2 separate regions of the Homo sapiens genome follow, and region 2 is linked to region 1. Evidence: fine-mapped expression QTL. A gene starts in region 1. The other region holds a variant in brackets. All regions are shown on one strand. Distances are from middle to middle. Region 1 holds the start of LINS1 (lines homolog 1). Region 2 holds the start of LOC102723335 (a long non-coding RNA gene).

Region 1 (11,142 bases):
CTCAAGTAGCTCTATTATGTGACCACTCCAAAGGCAAATCTTTTTTTTTTTTTTTAAACATAGCACAAATTAATGCTGGACATTAGAATCATAACGTGTTCATACTAGAAAAAATCTCAAGAGATAATTTAGAGATAATTCTCAAACCGTAGCATCAGAATTACCTGGAAGGCTTATTAGAACACAAATGGCTGGGCCCACTTTGGAGATTCTGATTTAGTGGGTCTGGGAGGGCCCAAGAATTGAACCAGGGACTACATTTTGAGAACCACTGCACAATCTACTTGATTTATTGATGAGGAATCTCAGCTCCTTAGGTTTTTATATGCTAATGCTAAGCATTTTTAAAATAAATGGAAATTATCCAGTGTATCAATATGAATACTTTTCTATACTTAGTTGCTAAATTATAACTGTATGTTTTAAGTGGTACTTCAGAATGAAATATTTCACTGAAAGGTTTTCCTTAGTCTTCCCCTTTTCCAGTCTATGCCTTGTCCCTTTTCCATCTGCCCCCACAAACCCGCCACCAGTGGCAGGGTAGCGTTGAGGAACTGTCTATAGATGTGATACTGTCTAGATTTTACTGAACTCCTAAATTCTGTACACAGACAAGATCTGATTTTTCAATTGATAAAACGAGATTATCTACCTACCTCAGCCAAGTAGCATACTCAAAGATTTGCAAAAATTAAATGGCTTATATGTGAAAACACCTGTATAACTCAAGTAGGAAGATGTCAATATGTCTTTATTTATTAACCTTGAAAGGTTCCTTCCAGCCTCTGGGCCTTGATACAATGCTTCTCCTTCCACCCACTTTCCCTTTTGTTTTAGGCTTAAATATGACTTTCTTTGGCAGGGGTAGGTCCTCCGGTGATACTGTCTTCCAGCTCTGGTGCCCTGTCTTACAGAATGTGTCACAATTATACTTTAACGATTTGTGCAATGATTTTTATGATTTAGAGTTGTCTGCTTGGTTCTTCCCTAGCTCCTAGCACAGCATTTGATACACAGTAGGTACTTATATTTGTGGAATACATTCCTGGCTGAAGATTAATTTAGTAGTGTATATGTAACAATCCTAAAATCAGTCCCAAAGTATATTTTAGTACCGTTTTGATCTCAAAAAACTTTAAAAACACCATGTAATATTTTAAGTTGTGAATTTTAAATTATAATAAAAATGTAGTATCAAAGAATTATAAACAGTAGTATCCATAGCAGGGATTAAGTTCTGAGCTCATTCAGTCTTTACCGTATGACACATCTGACAACGTACTTGACAGAAGCAACACACACTGAAGCACCATCTTAAAATGGCTGTGGTAGAATACCATAGAAGACCAAAATCCCTTAAATTACCAGGGCAAGAACTATAAGGAACTCAAAAGCCTCCAGTTAGCTTCCTTTCTTTCGGCGTTCTTTTTGCTGTGATGACCAAGGTCTGAAATACAATTTCTCTACCCAGCCCCATCGCCTTTTCTGCCAGGTACAGCTGAACTAAGTTGGGCTAACAAGGCAAATGATGGGCTCCAAACTGTGCTGCATCTGTCTTTATGGTGGCCCTCTTTATTACACCAAGATCCCCAGACACAACCTGCTGGCCCAGAACACTGCCTGCTGCCAACTAGAGCATAACCTGCTCATTCTCTCCACCACCAAGTGCTTTATGGGCCAGGACACAGCCTCCTGGGCAGTGGTCCTTGACCTTGGAATCTGACCTTGACACTGACATCACTGGAACATTAGGAAAAACCCATGAGCCTTGGACTCCCTAGAGACCAGCTAAATCAGAATTGCTGCAGTGGTGCTGGGGCATTTTTCCAATGACAAAGTCTCTTTCTACTCAAGAAATAAACTCAATTCTGATTGAGTCAGGGTTTCATGAATCAAGCTTCATGAATACTTATCCCAAATTATTTCACTTATATGTTGTAAGATGTTCCCATTTTTGTGAGTTTTATATTATTAACTAAGTTAATGGGAAATGAAGTGTATCTGTTAAAACCTAATCAATATTAACTTGTTATAAATATTCCGCAATCTAAACTGCTTTTACATCATTGAAAAGTTATAAAAATTAGCAAATCTGATAGCACCAATTCAATAAAGCAATTTAAAATTACCTAGTAGCACATTCTGTGAAACTTTGACAATATGATGTTACTTGGCTATGATATAATCATGTACTTCAATCATTTGAAAATGGTTGTTTAACTCAAAGGCAGGATTTTTAATGAAAAACAAATGGCCAGAAATACAAAGAACTAGGAATTAGGAGACAACTCTGTTTCTAGGCTCTTCACCAACAAGTTCTTAGGCCCCCATCTCTCTACTTAACTATCATTTAGCAAATACACCATATGAATTGCATGGGTGCCGAGTCTGCTATAAGAATGAATATGTTCTCCACAACAATTTACATATTTATTCATTTCTCTCTCCCTCTTTTTCCTTCTTTTTGGGAGTTCAAAACTTCTTGACTCTATAATTAGTAAATGTTATAAAACTGAACTTGTACATTATATTTGAACTGTTAAAAAGCAAAATTTGAGGCTGGGTGCAGTGGCTCACACCTGTAATCCCAGCACTCTGGGAGGCCGAGGCGGGTGGATCACCTGAGGTCAGAGGTTCGAGACCAGCCTGGCCAACGTGGTAAAACCCCATCTCCACTAAAAATACAAAAATTAGCTGGGTGTGGTGGAGTGTGTCTGTAGTCCCAGGTACTCAGGAGGCTGGGACAGGAGAACTGCTTGAACCTGGGAGGCGGAGGTTGCAGTGAGCCAAGCTCGCACCACTGTACTCCAGCCTGGGCGACAGAGGGAGACTCCATCTCAAAAACAAAAACAAACAAAATTTGAACAAATTTAAAGATGTAAATGGCTTTTATTAGCAATTTATGAATCTGGCAGCATCTCAACTAAAAATTTAGAAACGGTGTTCTGATTAGCTGAGCAGAGGTGGGCTGAAAACGGTTGAAGAAGCAAAAAGAGAATAAAAGACAGATTGGTCATTTCAAAGTTAAACTTTCCTCACAGAGACCAAATGGAGGAGAGACTTCTTTATCATGCTGGCTCAGGTAAATCAGGCCTCCTTGACTCCTTGCTGTGTATCTTCTGGATTTTTTGACAACTGGCCCATTTCTAAGTTGTTTGATTATGTGACACCTAGCACCAGCAACTCCATTCTGATTTGGCCTGGTCTGTTGGGCCTAGTGCAGGGGTTTAATCTAAAACAATGGCTTCCTATACATTTCATTTAACAATACTAATAAAATACCGCTTTTATTTTATTTGTTTACATTGGAGTCCTGCTGTTAAGCAAAAAAAAAAAAAAAAAAAACAGGGAGAAATCATGGTAGAATCGAAAGACCGAAAGCTACTAAAAATTGATAGCATTTAATAGTCCTGAATAAGTTGTTTCTAATTATAATTCAGCTACTAATTTCAAGAAGAAATGGAAATTTAGAAAGTTGAAATTATGAAATATGATTGCTGGGAAGTATAATGGGACAAAAATTAAAAAGCTGAATCTATCTTCACTGCCACTACTGCACTTCTACTCTGGACAACTGCAACCGATCCCTTCCAAAGTGGTTGTATCCAGGCCCACCCTACACCCACTTCCTTCTGAAAAACCAATCCACTTTCCTTAGGATACAGTCCAAACTCCTAAACAAGGCTTACCAAGGCCCTTCAAGATCTGACTCTCGGCGTCTTCTCATCTCTATGCCCCACTCCCCAGTCTCATTACCAGTCATTTTCCTACCACTCTGCTTCAGCTACCCTAGCCTTCTTTCTGGCAGTTCCTGTAAACAGCAAAGCATATTCTAGCATCAGAGGCTTTGCATTTCTAATTCTCTCTGCTGGCAAAATTCTCTCCCTAGATCTTGGCATGGCTGGCTCTTTGTCATTCAGATCCCTGCTCAAATGTCACTTCCTCAGAGACCTTTCCTATCTGTCTTAGTCCGTTTCCTGTTGCTTATAAAATAATTCCTAAAACTCGGTAATTTATAAAGAAAAGTAATTTATTGTCTAGTTTTGGAGGCTGGGAAGTCTAAGACTGACGGACCACGAGACAGCACCGCAAAGTATCACGTGGCCAGGGGGCTGAGCAGGCTCACGAGTTGTCAAGTCTCTCCTTAAAAAGCCACCAGTTCTACCTCCGTGATAACCCATTAATCCATGAATAGATCAATCCACTCGTGAAGACAGAACCCTCACGGTCCAACCACCTCTTAAAGACTCTACCTCTCAGTACTGCCACATTGGGGATTAAATTTCAACATGAGTTTTGAAGGGGACAGATATTCACACCATAGCACTACCTATCTAATACAGCCCATCACGTCCTGGTCAAAATCGATTCCACCATTCTGCTTGATTTTCCTCATATAACCCATCCCTATCTGATAATTTTGTGTTTGTTTCCCCGAAATCACTATCTTGTTCACTGTTGTCTCCCCAGGGACTAGAACAGTGGCCAGTAAACACTTGCTAATGAATAAAGTGCTTAACAAACGTGTCTTGATCAGTCTATCTCGCGTTTTCCCCACGACCCCTCTCCATTCATTCACAGGAACCCGCCAACGTTGCTATCCTTTCAGGAAGGTCCTTGGATCGTCATCGCTATCCCAAAGAGAGTCCGTTCTCCCACTTCAGGCGAGGCATTGCCAGCCTGGAAGCTAACGGGGTCTCAAGGACCGACAGCCGCGCCAAGACCGGGCACTTGCGTCTGACAAGCGCTGAACAGGGGCGGAGAAACAAGGCACCCCTCTACTCGCTTCCTGGAGCCTGCCGCCCTCCCAACCTTAAGCCCTGAACCAGGCTCTCATTTGGCCGCACTCGTGCCTCCCCTGCTGCCAGCACGGCGGCCGGTCCCGGTTACCTGCCTGGGATCTGGCTCAGGCGAACTCTCTTCACACCGCCATTTGAGGGAACACAAATGCCCGCTCTGGGCCACCGTAGTTCACAGAAAGTACAAGCTGGCACCTCCTCCCGCATGCGCAGAGACCGCCTTCGGCGAATAGTGTCTCTTAGCAACGGCTTTGAGTCCCTCCGCCAGGGGCGGAGCCTCGGAAGCCACCACGGGGAAGCTGTAAGGGGAAGTGAGTGAGACCAATCGGAGACGAATCTCTGCCCCGTTCGGCACGCCTCCCTTAACTGTCGCGAATGCAAAGGCAACTTTACGGCAGGCAGAGGGTGGGGGCTGCCGGGGGTAAGGAGGAGAGAAGGAAGCAACCAACCAACCAAGTCGTCCCTACTCCCTCCACCCCCACCCATCCCGGACCTGGTTTACGGCTCCAGGCTCAGGCTCCACTGCGGGCGCTGATTGGTTGTTGAAGGCTTGGTCCCATCCCAGTGACCCCAAAGTGCTGAAGGGAGGGGGCGGGGGTGGCCCAGTGCAAAGTGCATCCCGAAAGCCCCCTGTCCGGAGACCCCACGGCTGGCACTTCGGGCCCCGTATGACCTGGGACCTCGCCGTCCCGAGACCTCCTGGGTCCCTCCGTAGCTGGAAGCCTCCGGCCCGGAGCGCGGCAGCCCCCTGCTCCGAGCCCTGGACCGGGACTGCCCCCCCACCCGAGCCAGGACTTCCTCCCTGCCTCCCTGCACCTCTGCCCCAAGGCTGCCCGGCGGCCGGGATCGCCACCTCCTGCCTTCTCGGCTGTTCGGATGTTCGCCGGGCTGGGGCCGTGAGGCACCGAGGAGGATCAGGAACACCAGGGTCCGGCCCTGCCTGGGGTATTTCTTCAATGGAGAAGTTGGTGAGTGTAGAGGAGGCTGAAAGGAGGAAGAGAAGCAGCAGCTGAGGAGACAGGTAAAGTCCTTTACTTCCCCCGAGGGGAAGAGTGCTGGCTGGGAGGGTAGGAGGGAGGAAAATCTCTGCTTTTTCTTGCCTGCCCTTGCCACTCTCCAGCCCCTTTCCTGAGCTCCCCCCTCCCCACCTCTGAGACACTACACCACTCACTGGTTTCTGTTTTTCTAGGTTTGAGCTGGCTGAAGAAGACGCGAAAGCAGGAAGAGGTCTGCCCACCTATCAGAGAAGCAGAAGGCACAGTGCCTCTGACCAGCATCGTCTGTAAAGGTAATGAGCCAGCCCTCCCCTCCCCCGTTGTTTATTCCTGGCCCCTACCTCATTAAGCAGTGGTTTATTTTCAGGGTGGTTGCCTGGGAATGCAACCTTTCCTACCCCCCCCACCCCCACCCCCAGTTTCCCAGGAAAAACAAAAACATTACCCGTGCCTGATACTTAACATTTTATAACTTCTCTACCCAGGACAGTATTTTCCCACTTTCTTTCTGTACAGTGTGTTTCTGTGTTTTTCATTATCTTTTGGTACACTGTGCCATTTACTCTGCTCTGAGGCTTTGAGACCTTTTTGTAGCTACCCTCCCTTCCTTACTCTCATAGGAATTCCTCAATTCCTTGTTAATTGCTTGTTAATTCTGAATGACTTTCCTTTTTAATTAAACCACAATTTACTGTTTTCCCCCTTACTCTTTCCTATCACCTTTCTTCTACCTGCATCAGAAAAATCTTTTGAGTTATCTAACTGACAACGATTTGGTAGAGAAAGGTAAATTATTGGCCTGAGATTTATGAGTTTCAGAAAATAGTTTGATTTTATTTCCTACTAGAAAGCCAACCTGTGTACCTTAAGAGTGTGAATGGTATGAAGACAACATTATTACCCTGAAGCACTTAGGCATAATTAACTCTTTGGGCTTTCTGTGTGTTTGTGTGTGACAAATGTGGATGGGCTTTGAAACTTATAAAGATACAATGTTTCTTACACCTCAGATTTTCTAGGAGAACTTTTAAAAATTTGCACAATATCTTATTAATCGTTTGACTCAGGAATTTAAAAACAAAGGAACCTTTTGGTGTGTTTACATATCTGGGTCTTAATTTTAGCACTCTATAAAAAAGATTTCTCATTTTAAAACTTTTACGTAGAGTTTGCTGGATTGAAATTTAAGCATCTAATTCATGTGATCACATTTCTGCTGCCATATTTTGTTGCTGCTTCTGAAAATGCTCTGAAAGTAAACTTAGGACATTAGTGTAATTCCTAAAGGGGGGATATAAGCATGGAAATTATACAAGGTTTAATTCCAAAATTAGCCAAATGGATGACTTTTTTAACATCCAGTAGCAAAAGTATAAAGTGACTTGTTAATCTGAGTTATTTTAATATCCCAAATTGTTTAGGGAATTTTTGTTACAAGGAAGTGCTTAAAATAGCAGAAGTTAATATTTTTGATTTCCTATGTTCCACTGGACTTTCTGCCCTCCACAAAAAGAAATTAGTATCTTTACTGATTCTGTTAATTCTTAAGACATAGCTAAAGAGATAAAGACATAGCTTTTAAGGGGATCTGAGGTATGCATATTCTTGAGACATGGAACTGCATGCCAAAAGAAGAGATTCTAGGGAATAGGATTTAGAATCAGTATCTACCAATGACTGTTCCCTGTTGAAAACTTAGGGCAGCTTTTGTATGTATATGTAGGGAATCAGGAGTACTAGACTACATCATTTCAGTAAAAGCTACCCGGAAATCTTTAAAGGCTAATTTTTATTATGTAAGTATGGAAGTTGTCAGGGAGATGGCCTAATGATTACTTCAGAACTTTTAAAAAATGCTAAAATATTTGAAGTATGTTCTAAAGATCAAAATGAAGTACTGTGTTTTGTATTCAAGCCTCTCAGTTAAATATTTTTTCAGCTTTACATGTAACTCTAGGACGCTTTCATTTCTAAAGAGTAGTTTCACCTGAGATGGTAAAGGGAAGGAGTCTGTGGCTAGTCCAGCACATAAGGTAAGAGAGGATAAGTCTTTACTCTGGCTCTCAGCCAGTTCATTCTCATTGCTTAAATCGTATTTCATGGATCATCTCATTTTTTAATAGTTTTTCTAAGATTAGGGAATATGTGTAAATTGTCAACATCTGTCATGTTTCTAATATCAGAATGACTGAGAGTATTTGGTCTAGATTATACCAGGCATTTAGAATATTTAATTTGGGTATTTATTTACCAACATGGCTAGTTAGGTAGCTTACATTTTTTAACCTGGCAGTTAGCTTTGTATTAATTCTATTGCCAATCATGTGGCTTAAAAAAAATCCAATTTATTTCGTCACCAAATATAGATTTATAATCACGTAGGGAGAATAATTGATTTTAATTGAAGATATGCAATGATGCATCTTTAGTATACTGTGGCCAGTACTTACATTCTTTACACATAAAGTGATGTCATTTACAATTAGTTAATACTATGACACATACAGTATCTCTTTAATTTGTTCACGTTTAACTTTGGTGACATAGAGATACACACCATCCCTAAAAAGTCTAAAGCCAGATATGATTTATATGGGCATATCTGTTACCTGACTTTCAGCCTTCCACATCATAATCCCCTGAATGCCCTCCCTACGTAGGATGATTGTCTCCTTTCTTGCAAACTTTCTAGGAATTGACACATGAGGCTACAAAGATGGTGTTGGCAGACCTAGGTTAATAAGATAATATTGACAGGACCTCATCATTATAATACTTGTGATTTAAGCTTTGAGTTGGGTCTGGATAAGTCCAAAATTTCTTCTGTTGCTTCATCCACACTTCATGAAAATTATTGGTTTCTCTGCTGGAATTTATGTGGGTCATGGATAAGTTGTGCATGGTAATAAATCCTTATGTTATATGGAGGCCCAGTAATTTGGAGGAAATACTAATACCTTTATTTGTTTTGGATCATAACCACTATGCTATACTTTGTTGAGTGACACTAAAATAACACTTATACCTTATTTTGGGTTCCAGGCTCCTGATCATATCAGTAGAGCTTGTGAACAGGCATCTCAGCCATGTTCTCCGTTTTGGTACGGCCGTGTAGTGTTTTTCCATCCATCTTCCCTCTTAGATCTTGTGAATGTGAACCATTGAAGGATTGTTTTTTTTTTCTCAGACCCAATGTCGTCGGAGTTGCTGATTGCATTTATTTTCTTACCAGCATGTATTTTTGTTTACTTTGCAAAGAAATGCTTATTTCTTTCTTTGAGTAATAAGCCATTATCTTGTTGCTAAGTTTATGTGACATCAGAAAGCACAGTTCAGTTTGCATCACTTAATCAGAAATGTGTGGACTTTTAATGATAATAATATGCAAAAAGTCATTAATGTCTAATCATTTATGCCAAAGGAGATTTGGGAAATATGGTCAAATTTGGTGAAGGTTTTGTAACTTCGGACAGGTCTTAAGCATATTTTGTTTTATGTTTATTTTATTCTTCACGCTGTTCTATCATATAGACTTAACTATGTGAAGCAAGAAGTTTTGGGTTTAACTAAATGAACTTCACTTGGCATCTATATGGAAATTAGATGGTAATGTACTTGAATTTCTAAATTAGTAGTTTTTAATATGGTCAATAGTATTAAAGCTTGGAAGCCTAGATTCTTTTCTTTTGACCCCAAGTGGAAAAGAAAGTCTTCCTTGTTTGTTTGCTTTTTTTTTCCTTGTGACTGTGAAAGCTAGAATAAAATTTCTGAAGATCATACCCTCAGAGTATCAGTAGCTCCTGAGTCCACAAAAACATAACTAAACATACATAACTTACAAAATTACCTCCTGGCCGGGCGCGGTGGCTCACACCTGTAATCCTAGCACTTTGGGAGGCCGAGGCGGGCGGATCACAAGGTCAAGAGATCGAGATCATCCTGACTAACATGGTGAAACCTCGTCTCTACTAAAAATACATGAATTAGCCGGGTGTGGTGGCACGCTCCTGTAGTCCCAGCTACTTAGGAGGCTGAGGCAGGAGAATCGCTTGAACCCTGAAGGCAGAGGTTGCAGTGAGCCGAGATCGCACCACTGCACTCCAGCCTGGCAATAGAGCGAGCCTCCGTCTCAAAAAAAAAAAAAAGAAAATTACTTCCTTTGCTATATTCCTTTTCTTTTTATAGGTGACTTCCATGAGCTATCAGTTTTTTAATAAACTCCCTGAGGGAAAATAGGCTTTCTTCCATTCTCATCTCTGGACTTCCTCTGTTGTTTTTTAATAGACATATTTACCACTAGATATTGTGTTTGCTTTTCAGCTCCATAGTCTTTTCTTCATTTATACACGTGACTCGACTCTGTCAGGCGCAGCTCTCATAAAGTAACACCAGGAGGAAATTACTTGTTGATGCTTTTGACTATTTGGGGGTCTTTTGTAATAAATTATTTTCTGTCGTAATTCAAAGCAGTGTAGCTGACAGGGATCATGTGTGCATGACGTGTGTGTATGTTTTTTTCTGGTAAACGTTGATGCACTAGTACATGCAGGGAGTACTTTTTTGGTTTAAACCTGTGGTTATTGTTTATAGCACTTGGTATTTTCAGAAAAGAGAAAAATAATCTTAAAATGTCTGGGATTTTAAAAAATTCATTTTAAGTATGCAGAACTCTATTGGAATACCACCTGGAGGTGCTACCTGTGGCCAAACCCTATCACTGTGCCACGTTAAGTGTCAAGCATTCTGTAGACATTTGTTTGTTTGACTGAAGGAGCTCATATGGAATTAGCACAAGTTGCTACCACCTGTGAATCTTTCTTGTTGGGAGAAATAGTTTGGCCACTTCATCTTTTACCACCAGGCCTTTTCTTGATATTGTTAATAAATTAACACCATTTCCTATTCTGCTCAGCTCTCATGCCGTCTTCCCTGACACTTCCAGCTGCCTCCATGGAAGTGGCGGTGGATAGTTGGAAGCCAGCAACAACCACAAGGATTCTTCAGGCTTGAAGCTATGTTGGGTCATGTTTACTTCTTATGGGAAGTAAGGGGTGCTGAGGACACACTTGGAAGTGAGATGTCCAGTGATGTTCACTCTTGAAATGTAGATGTAGCTCGTGAAAAGTGGTGGCATATTCATTTGTGGCAATGTGTGAGGCTCATCACTGGGGACACTGATTTGCATTTTAAAATAAACTTTATTGTAGGAAAGCTTTGGATTTACAGAACAATTACTGAGGCTGTGCAGAGTTCCTACATGCTCGATACTCAGTTTCTCCTACTAACATCTTATATTAACATGTTTGTCACCACCTTGAGGAGAGACTACCTATACAAATTATTTGGAA
Region 2 (11,142 bases), 41 kb before region 1:
CGCAGATGAGGGACGGGCGGATGACTTCCTTCCAGACGCAGATGAGGAACGGGCGGATGACTTCCTTCAGGACGCAGATGAGGGACGGGCGGATGACTTCCTTCCGGACGCAGATGAGGGACGGGTGGATGACTTCCTTCGGACGCAGATGAGGAACGGGCGGATGATTTCCTTCCAGACGCAGATGAGGAACGGGCGGATGACCTCCTTCAGGACGCAGATGAGGAACGGGCGGATGACCTCCTTCCGGACGCAGATGAGGGACGGGCGGATGACTTCCTTCGGACGCAGATGAGGGACGGGTGGATGATTCCTTCCAGACGCAGATGAGGAACGGGCGGATGACCTCCTTCCGGACGCAGATGAGGGACGGGTGGATGACTTCCTTCCGGACGCAGATGAGGGACGGGCGGATGACTTCCTTCCAGACGCAGATGAGGGACGGGTGGATGACTTCCTTCCAGACGCAGATGAGGGACGGGCGGATGATTCCTTCAGGACGCAGATGAGGGACGGGTGGATGACTTCCTTCCAGACGCAGATGAGGAACGGGCGGATGACTTCCTTCGGGACGCCGATGAGGAACGGGTGGATGATTCCTTCAGGACGCAGATGAGGAACGGGCGAATGACTTCCTTCGGGACGCCGATGAGGAACGGGTGGATGATTCCTTCAGGACGCAGATGAGGAACGGGCGGATGACTTCCTTCGGGACGCCGATGAGGAACGGGTGGATGATTCCTTCAGGACGCAGATGAGGGACGGGTGGATGACTTCCTTCCAGACGCAGATGAGGGACGGGCGGATGACTTCCTTCCAGACGCAGATGAGGGACGGGCGGATGACTTCCTTCCAGACGCAGATGAGGGACGGGCGGATGATTCCTTCAGGACGCAGATGAGGGACGGGCGGATGACTTCCTTCCAGACGCAGATGAGGGACGGGCGGATGACTTCCTTCCAGACGCAGATGAGGGACGGGCGGATGATTCCTTCAGGACGCAGATGAGGGACGGGTGGATGACTTCCTTCCAGACGCAGATGAGGAACGGGTGGATGACTTCCTTCGGGACGCCGATGAGGAACGGGTGGATGATTCCTTCAGGACGCAGATGAGGAACGGGCGGATGACTTCCTTCGGGACGCCGATGAGGAACGGGTGGATGATTCCTTCAGGACGCAGATGAGGGACGGGTGGATGACTTCCTTCCAGACGCAGATGAGGGACGGGCGGATGACTTCCTTCCAGACGCAGATGAGGGACGGGCGGATGACTTCCTTCCAGACGCAGATGAGGGACGGGCGGATGATTCCTTCAGGACGCAGATGAGGGACGGGCGGATGACTTCCTTCCAGACGCAGATGAGGGACGGGCGGATGACTTCCTTCCAGACGCAGATGAGGGACGGGCGGATGATTCCTTCCGGACGCAGATGAGGGACGGGCGGATGACTTCCTTCGGGACGCCGATGAGGAACGGGTGGATGATTCCTTCAGGACGCAGATGAGGAACGGGCGGATGACTTCCTTCCAGACGCAGATGAGGAAAGGGCGGATGACTTCCTTCAGGACGCAGATGAGGGACGGGCGGATGACTTCCTTCCAGACGCAGATGAGGGACGGGCGGATGATTCCTTCCGGACGCAGATGAGGGACGGGCGGATGACTTCCTTCCGGACGCAGATGAGCGACGGGTGGATGACTTCCTTCCAGACGCAGATGAGGGATGGGCGGATGACTTCCTTCCGGACGCAGATGAGGAACGAGCAGATGACTTCCTTCCGGACGCAGATGAGGAACGAGCAGATGACTTCCTTCCAGACGCAGATGAGGGACGGGCGGATGACTTCCTTCCGGACGCAGATGAGGGACGGGCGGATGACTTCCTTCCGGACGCAGATGAGGGACGGGCTGATGACTTCCTTCCGGACACAGATGAGGGACGGGCGGATGACTTCCTTCCGGACGCAGATGAGGGACGGGCGGATGATTCCTTCGGGACGCAGATGAGGGACGGGCGGATGACTTCCTTCCGGACGCAGATGAGGGACGGGCGGATGACTTCCTTCCGGACGCAGATGAGCGACGGGCGGATGACTTCCTTCCGGACGCAGATGAGGGACGGGCGGATGACTTCCTTCCGGACGCAGATGAGGGACGGGCGGATGACTTCCTTCCGGACGCAGATGAGCGACGGGCGGATGACTTCCTTCCGGACGCAGATGAGGAAGGGATTCCTTCCGGACGCAGATGAGGGACGGGCGGATGATTCCTTCCGGACACACCTCTCAATGTGCACGTGCTGCTCCTGCCAGGCGGATGACATCAGGAATGCTCATCAACTTGAGGGCGAAGAAATGCTTGGCGGTCTTCTCCTTCACCGGGTGCACCCGCCCGAACGTCCCAGTGCCCACGGTGGCCAGTGTGTCGAAGTCCTGCAGGCGGTGGGCAGGCGGCTCCGGCGACCAGGCCTTGGGGCTGGGGCAGAATGCGGGTGCCCAGCCGGGGGTCTCCTCCCACACCTCTCGGGGGTCGCTCTCCGCCACGGCCGCCTGGGCCAGTCGGGGCTCCTCCATGCGGACACACTCAGGTCCGGGGCACCGGGCCAGGCCGGAGCGCTCGGGTAGCCGGGCTTCCCGGGACGCAGCCTCGGAGGGCGGCGTGGTGGTGGCATCAACGGAGGCTCCCCATGCGTGCCCTCGCCTCCCAGCGCGCGGCCCGGCGCAGCTGACAACGCCCCCGGGTGGGAGCAGCTGCCGGCCTCGTCGGGGGGTGGGCACTGAGTGCCGCGCAGCAGCGGGGAAGATGGGGCCCGTGGCCCAGGCTGTGGGGGCAGGGAGGGGGCCCTGCGCATTCCCAGTCTCGCGCCCGCCGCCTCCTCCAGCTTGGTAGCCGCCAGCGTGCTCTACGGTGTTTTTGTTTGTTTTTTACCAGCTGATTCACAACTCAAGTAGCACAGTGAAGGTGGACAATTTGGACTGCCTAAGCATCCCAGCATCGTCTGTTCTACATATCACTATTCCAAATGGCATGCTGCTGTGTTTGTGAATCCAGCCTCCCACATTGGGTATGTCACCATTGGCCTATAACAACTGGAATGACACATCTTCACTAGAGGCAGGCCTTGGCCATCCTCCACAGCAGACTATTGAGTAACAAAATAAGCAGTACTATTTATTTACTTCTTACTATGCTGTTTAAAAAAAAAGCCTCTGATGAAATCCTGGTGGCTTCTTCTCTGTTCTTACCAATCCAGGAAGTGTAGAGAGCTGTTGAGCCCTGTTTCCAAATCCCCAGGTGAAGCTGCGCTGACATGCCTTCTGTCCATACAGCCCTTTCCAAGACTCAGCTATTTGTGATCACCCCCAAATGTTACCCTGATTCTATTACCAATTTGTAATAAAACTCACTTGTATGGTGGAAAGGCTGTTGCCAATTAATTTTATTTTCGTCACCCATTTTCCCTTCCATGTAATCGTCAAATTGTTTATTGTACATATTAAAAATGACACACAATCAAGAGGGCATATGCTATATTCAAGCAAAGAATGCTATGTGAGCCACGCGTGGTGGCTCACGCCTGTAATGCCAGCACTTTGGGAGGCCAAGGGGGGTGGATCAATTGAGGTCAGGGGTTTGAGACCAGCCTGGCCAACACAGTGAAACCCCATTTCTACTAAAAATACAAAAAAAAAAAATACCCGGACATGGTGGTGCACGCTTGTAATCCTAGCTACTTGGGAGGCTGAGGCAGGAGAATTACTTGAACCCAGGAGGTGGAGATTGCAGTGAGCCAAGATTGCACCACTGCACTCCAGTCTGGGCAACAGAATGAGATGCCATCTCAAAAAAAAAAAAAATGCTATGCGATACAAAAATGATGTACTTGTCAATAGTCCAGTGAGTCAGGGGAACCCTTTCTCTTTATTGTGGAGAAAAATAGCACAATCAGAAAAAAAATTAAAAGATAATTTTCAGGAAAACTGACAGTTAAAAATCCAATTCTGTTTTACACAAGTAGTCTTTTGTGTTTTGCAGAAAAACAAATATCTGTTGATTTGGAGATGGACAATATATGGTCCTTAGCAAATAAAAGAAGTTTAGCTGTGGGGAAACCTGCACTTCCTCATAATTTATTGAATAGCTTAAAAAGATGTCATCAGCAATTATAAGTGTGCTTCTGGGGTGCTTACTTCACAGGCCTCAAAGGGAGAAATGAGTCTGACAGGAGGCTTGAGGCACTTAAAAAACACACAGACATTCTGATTGCCACCCCTAGAAAGTGCCTTTTTTTTTTTTTAAAGTTACAAAATATGAAATGCTTCATAAATTTACATGTCATCCTTGAGCAGGGGCCATGCTAATCTTCTCTGTATCATTCCAATTTTAGTATATGTGCTGCCAATATAAGCATAGAAAGTGCTTTTCAGATGGCCAGGCACAGTGGCTCATGCCTGTAATCCCAGCACTTTGGGAGGCCTAGGTGGGCAGATCACCTGAGGTCAGGAGTTAGAGACCAGCCTGACCAACACTAAGAAACCCTGTCTCTACTAAAAATACAAAATTAGCTGGGTGTGGTGGTGCATGCCTGTAATACCAGCTGCTTGGTAGGCAGAGGCAGGAGAATTGCTTGAACCCAGGAGGTGGAGGTTGTGGTGAGCCAGGATAGTGCCATTGCACATTTTTCAGGTAAAACCATGCTTCAACTCTACTGCCTTCAATGATTGGGTAGGCTCTACCAAACAGCAAACACCTGAGCCATTCTCACTGGAAAGAAAATCACAGGCAGATCACATTCCATATCTCAATGCTTCTAAATATCAGAGAACTGCTGGGACAGTGGTGTGTGCCTGTAATCTCAGCTACTTGGGAGGCTGAGGCAGGAGGATCCTTTGAGCCCAGGAGTTTGAGACTAGTCTGGGCAACATAGTGAGATTCCATTGCAAAAAAACAGTATGTGAAGTAAATTTAAAATAAATATCAGAGAAGTGTACTTTGAAAACAAAGCAAAAATCCTGAAAAGGAAAAACACAAGCAATCCAGGGTGTACACAAGCATGTATTGTACCCAATGCAGTAAGTAACTGGACTACAGTTCATTCCAACTACTTGGTAAGGTTCATTGTGAACTGCAAACTTAGAAAGGGATCACTGTTTGCTTTTCCTTTATCTTAAAAAAATATATAGGCCAGCTTTGCAATTAAGAGGGGATACATGGTGTTTACTGTAAAGGCTTTGATGTGAGTTCAGTTCTACCCTCTTTAAAATAACCAGAAAAACTCAGAAATGGTTTGCTAGTCTGATCTATGATCCTACTGTTAGAAAAGGCATTTTGTCAACCATAATTTTTGAATGTGCATTTTGATAAAGCAAGACAATTTTTATACTGTCATAAGTGACAATCAAGACCAATTAAAGTTTAATATTTAGGTCAAGTGTCCAAACATCTGGGCAGTCCATGTCTGCCAAGTGCAGCCCTAGTGGGTTGTGTTAAGGAAGAGGTAGGAGGTACAGCAGCAAGTCCAGCTGGTGCCCAGGGAGATATTTTGGATTTCTGGAACATTGCCTTTGGTGATTGTGTTAAAACTATTTCTGACTTGAATGGTATTGTTTTCAGCCTGTCATTTCAAAGGTGCAACCCAAAATGCCAGTATTATTTGTGTGCAGAGAATACAAATAAATTGAAAACCACCATCCTTGGTTTCTACCTCTTCCCCTCCTGTGCACACTTGAGTCCACCTAAAATTTCTCTCTTAAACATCATCAGCTACTTCCTAAGGGTCAAACCATCTGGTGGTTTCTCGGATCTCATCCCACTGTTGCTCTCAGAGATACTAAACCCCACATAAATTTTCCTTCTCAAAGCTCTATAAAACCTTTCTTAGTTTCCTCATAGAATTTTCTGTTCTCCTGCCTCAAATTTCCCTCACTTTCCTTATTCTATCCAGTACTCCCCCGACCCACCCTCACCTTTTCTCTCTCCACTCTCAG[C/G]GCAATCACACTTTCTTCTACGATTTTCATAATACTTGTACACAAATGACTCATATTTGGCTCTGTCCTTCTAATTTCCAACAGAGCATTTCTAACTCTCTGCTGGATGCCACGCTGTGCTGATAACAGTGTCAGAAGTCACTCAGGTGAGAACTGAACTTTTCTTCCTCCTAAGGCTTCCTACTTTCTTATTTCAGTAAACAGAGCAGCATCTCAGCATGCCAGTGAAACGATGGCTCTTTATTTCAGGTTGATCCTGTTCCTCCTTTTTAAATTCTTTTTTCCAGTTATACTTGCACACATTATTTAAAGACTAAGTCTTTCAGTTCTAAAAACTTTCCTTGAATTTCTTTTATACTTTCTCTTTTCCAGTCCTTTTTTCTCTTTCTGATACTTCTATTATTCAATTATTGGACCTTGGTGACCAGTTCTCACATTATATCATCTCTCTCTCTCCTATTTTCTAATTTCTTTGTCCTATTGCTGTAAAATCTAGATTTCCTCAACTTATTTTTACTACATTTCTACTTTTTCATTTTTGCTATCACATTATTAATTTATAAGAGGTATTTTTTTCCCCACTGAATATTTTTTTCTTTTTTGAGACAGGGTCTTGCTCTGCTCTGTCACCCAGGCTGGAGTGCAGTGGTGCGATTATACGATTGTAGTTCACTGTAACCTCAAACTCCTGGGTTCAAACCATCCTTCTGCCAAGCCTCTCAAGTAGCTGGGACTACTATACTCAACTATTTAGGTTTTTTTTTTGGAGAGACAGAGTCTCATGATGTCGCCCAGGCTGGTCTTAAACTCCTGGGCTCAAGTGATTCTCTTGCCTTGGCCTCCCAAAGTGCTGGAATTACAGGTGTAAGCCACCATGCCCAGCCCCTCGCTGAATATTTTTTATGTAGTATCCTTTATAATTTCTTTGAGGGTATTGATAAATTAACTTCCTCTTTGTTTAATCTGTTTCGTGTTTGTTTTGATCTCTGCCTTTTGGGTTAGAGGCTTTCCCCTAATTCCTGATGATCCTTGGCTATTCACTCACATTATATGTAAGAGTGAGCCACTTAAATGCCAGTTAGCTCTATGTACATGGTGATATTTGCCACTATGGGCTTCATAGTAGGGTGATTTGGCTGGGTAATTCATTTGGGGAACCCCAGTATCAGTGTCTTTAGATCTTTTTTCTTGGGTTTGTTAAATTCCCCAGAAAAGTCTCTTCTAGCCTCCTACTTAGAGTTAGAAGTGTTTTGGCAATAGGGTTGGGGAGAAGGCCAGGGAGGATGGTGGTTATATTTAGTATGTAAATGTTTAATTAATCCTGTTTTCAGTATGTTATTCCTATCTCCAGCTATGTCTGGTGTTCCCCAGTCCAAAGACCTGTTGTTTCACACTCTCCCGGAATTAACCTCTAATCTGCTAGGTGGTGGAGGGAGCAATGGCTAACTACATGGAATGGGGCAGAGGATCTAGAAGTAATTGTTTCCTGAATTGCTTTTCCACCCACCACCCCATGGTACAGCATGGTACTCAAGACTACAAGCTCCTGAGCCTTCAGAAGAATCCAGCTCATAAGTCAGGTTTTTCAGTTTTCCCCATTCCAGATAGGAATGTAATGTTCCTGGGTCGACTAAGTTAGTTTGAACCCGCCACTGCAAAATTGTAACTGGGACAGTGGAAGAGATCGGACTTAACCAACTCCATCTTGCTTCTTACCTCCAAGCTGTCCTTGTTCATCCCTGGGCATAGGCTGAACTAATTTTGAGAGGAATTTATAGTTTAAAACAAAGATAAGAGGCAAATCCCCTTCTTGCCTGGGGACGAGACTGCCTTTGTAGGATTAACAAATTAGTCACAAGATTAGAAATTATGGTTTAGGAGTCATGCAGCTGGAGGCTGCAAGATTCTGACCCTCCCTAAACTGCTCCTAAGTCAGGAACTATTTTGTAGACCCTGCACTTGATGGATCAGCTGGCACCACCCAGATCCATAAACTGGCTCATCTGATCTTGGTTCTTGTGGCCCCCACCCAGGAACTGACTCAGCACAAGAAGACAGCTTTAATTCCCTGATCTCTTCTCTTTCCCAACCAATCAGCACTCTTGACTCACATCCCCTTCCCACCAAATTATCCTTAAAAACTCTGATCCCTGAATGCTCGGAAAGACCGATTTGAGTTATAATAAAACTCCAGTCTCCCCTACAGCCGGCTCTGTGTGAATTACTCTTTCTTTATTGAAATTCCTGTCTTGATAAATCGGCTTCGTTTAGGGAGTGGGAAAGATGAACCCACTGGGCGGTTACGAGTTTTCAACCTACCTACCTTTGAGCTTCCAAAATTGTTTTCTCCTTTTCCATTTTGTCCGCATGTGTCTTGTTGCTTGTGATTTGGCCTCTTTCTTGTTGTTAGTGGGTGTCTGAGGGCAGAAAAGCTGATGTGAGCATTCAGCCAGGCCTGGATCCCATTCCCATTGCCCTTGCCTTCAGTGGGATTTCTGCAATAAACTCTTCCACTCTATTGTGGCAATAAACTCTAGCCACTATATTGCCACTAAAGTCACTTTCTTCAAATACAAAACCAGTCATTTACTCAAAAACCTCATCAGCTGTCCACTGTGTATAGAAAAGTCAATACTCCATAGCACATCACCCTAGGTCTTGGATGACCTGACTCCAGTATAAGTTTATAGTGTGACTTATACCACCTACCACACATATCCAAATCTGCAACAATTTTAGTTTTAATAGTGTACATCCCTCATCTTCTATCTTGAAGGCAGGAATAAATTATGTAGGGAGTCTGAGAAGAGGTTGGAACCCAACTACCTGAATCCATTACTTCAGCTCTGCCACTTTACTGGCTGGGTGATCTTGGGCAAGCTACTTAATCTCCATGTCTGCAAAACAAGAATAATAATAATAATAATAATAATAATAATGATAATAGGACCTACTTTCTAACATTGTTACAAGGATTAGAAGAGCACTTAACAGTGGCTAGCAAGTAGGAAGTGCAAGGTAAGGATAATGATTATAATTCTCTGCACATCTGTCTCCTCCAGTAGATTATCAAGTTCCTGGAGAAGGATCACTTCTCATTTATTCAACATTTGTGCTGTGCCTATGATGTAACGATGTAAAAAGAGCTTAGCAAATGGAAAGACTGTCGACTTATGGTTCAAATATAATGTGACAAATGATACAACACAGGAAAGAGCAAAGCACAGAGAATAGAGCATGCAGAATTGAATGGTGAAGAACGGATGGGGGAAGGCTTCACAATCTAACACTGAAGATGGGGCTTGATGAATGAATATGTAAGAGCCAAGAGTTGTGCAAGGAACAGTGGATGGGGAGAAAACCACAGACAGCCTGGAGAAGCAGGTTGGGGCCAGTTGCACAAGGCCCTGCATAACCTGTTTACCATACAATTTATTGTTTGACCAGTGTTTGCTAATCTCACTGTTCTAGCATATCAGGCGTGTCAGAGAATTATGAGGAGTCAAAGTATTTTGTTACTAATAATAGCTGAAATGTGGGTACTTAACTTTTTTTTGAGATGGAGTTTTGCTCTTGTTGCCCAAGCTGGAGTGCAATGGAGCGATCTCAGCTCACTGCAGCCTCTGCCTCTGGGGTTCAAGCGATTCTCCTGCCTCAGCCTCCCATGTAGCTGGGATTATGGGTGTGTGCCACCATACCTGGCTGGTTTTTTGTATTTTTAGTAGAGACGGGGTTTCACTATGTTGGCCAGGCTGGTCTCGAACTCCTGACCTCAGGTGATCCACCCGCCTCAGCCTCCCAAAGTGCTGGGATTACAGGCGTGAGCCACCATGCCTGGCCAGGTACTTGACATTTTAAAAATAAATCAGGACACACTCCCAAATGATGTTGAACAAAAGAATACATAATCTATGACTCCATTTATAAAAGAAAGAGAAAACCAGGCAAAGATTGTCTCTGTTGTCTCAGTTCATGACACAGTTACCTTCAGGGGTGGACAGTGACAGGGAGAGGATTCAAGAGGGACTTCTGGGTGCCTCATGCTATTTCTTGATCTGGGGACTGGCTCCACAGGTGTGCTGTTTCTGAAAATTCAACAAGCTGTATACTTATAGTGCACTTTTCTGTATCTCTTCTGCTTTAAAATAAGTCAGGTGCACAGCACCATGTGCTCACTTGTATTTCCATATTCTTTTACTGGAAGGGGTGAGGTTACAGACTCCTCTTGTGTTGTACTCTGGGAATTCACTGTGCAGACATGCATCAATAGTTTTGTGTTCCTTTAAGAAGTAACTCTGGGAATAGCGCTTAGATGCTCAGAAAGGCCAAGGATAGTGATCACACCAGCCAAGGGTCACCTTTAGCAAGAGCAGGGCTTAGTGAGTGTGTGATGAATTGACTTACACTCGAGTTAGTTATAAATGTAGAGATTCTGAAACACCAACTTCGCATATCTGTAAGATTGCTTTTCCCTCATTTTACATGTAATGAGGGGCTGACAGTTCCTTGCTAACCTTATAGAGAAACACAAGTCAAAACCACATCTGCATAAGCATGAGTTATAATGCATTCAACATTTATGTACCCTTAGGAACAAGAGTCGATTTTTTTTTCCCAGTTATTTCCATCAAAAAACAGCCATGTGTCACATGACAGGGACATGTTCTGAGAAATGAGCTGTAAGGCAATTTTGTTGTCATGTCATGTATGTCACAGAGTATACTCAACAAACCTAGATGGCATAGCCTACTACACACCTAGGCTATATGGTATAGCCCATTGCTCCTAGGCTACAAACCTGTACACAGCATGTTACTGTACTGAATACTGTAGGCAACTGTAACACAATAGTAAGTATGCGTGTATCTAAACATGCCTAAACATAGGACAGTCACAGTAAAAATAACGGCTTGATAGTCTTATGGGACCACTGTACTATGTGGTCTGTTATTGAAACATCCTAATGCAGTGCTGCATGTATCCCACTAAAAATAGTACAAAAAGATGAGACTTTGTCTTCCACATCAGACCTGTCTCCCAAGGCAACCACTATTATGACTTTCTTATGTAGTCTTACATACATATTTTATACATGCACAAAAGCATATATATGAATGTGTATTACTCCCGCCCTGCTTCTTTCCCTAAATAAT

The links. PIP is the estimated chance that this variant, and not a neighbour inherited with it, causes the effect.
Region 2: its variant is fine-mapped to the expression of LINS1 in whole blood (TOPMed, PIP above 0.99).

What each region holds. Positions count from the first base shown.
Region 1 is chr15:100,597,227-100,608,368 of GRCh38, forward strand. It overlaps LINS1 (lines homolog 1), which reads right to left and starts at 4,958. Exons shown (of 7, transcript NM_001040616.3): 1 at 4,895-4,958. ASB7 (ankyrin repeat and SOCS box containing 7) reads left to right here and starts at 5,363. Exons shown (of 6, transcript NM_198243.3): 1 at 5,363-5,820; 2 at 5,989-6,087. RefSeq lists an enhancer at 4,876-5,215 and silencers at 5,386-5,645, 6,096-6,145.
Region 2 is chr15:100,556,380-100,567,521 of GRCh38, forward strand. It overlaps LOC102723335 (a long non-coding RNA gene), which reads left to right and starts at 2,287. Exons shown (of 3, transcript NR_135693.1): 1 at 2,287-2,443; 2 at 2,934-3,066; 3 at 3,256-3,420. It overlaps LINS1 (lines homolog 1), which reads right to left. Exons shown (of 7, transcript NM_001040616.3): 7 at 10,545-11,142. It also overlaps the pseudogene PRKXP1 and the pseudogene RNU6-181P. The variant C/G (reference allele first, on the strand shown) is at 5,990.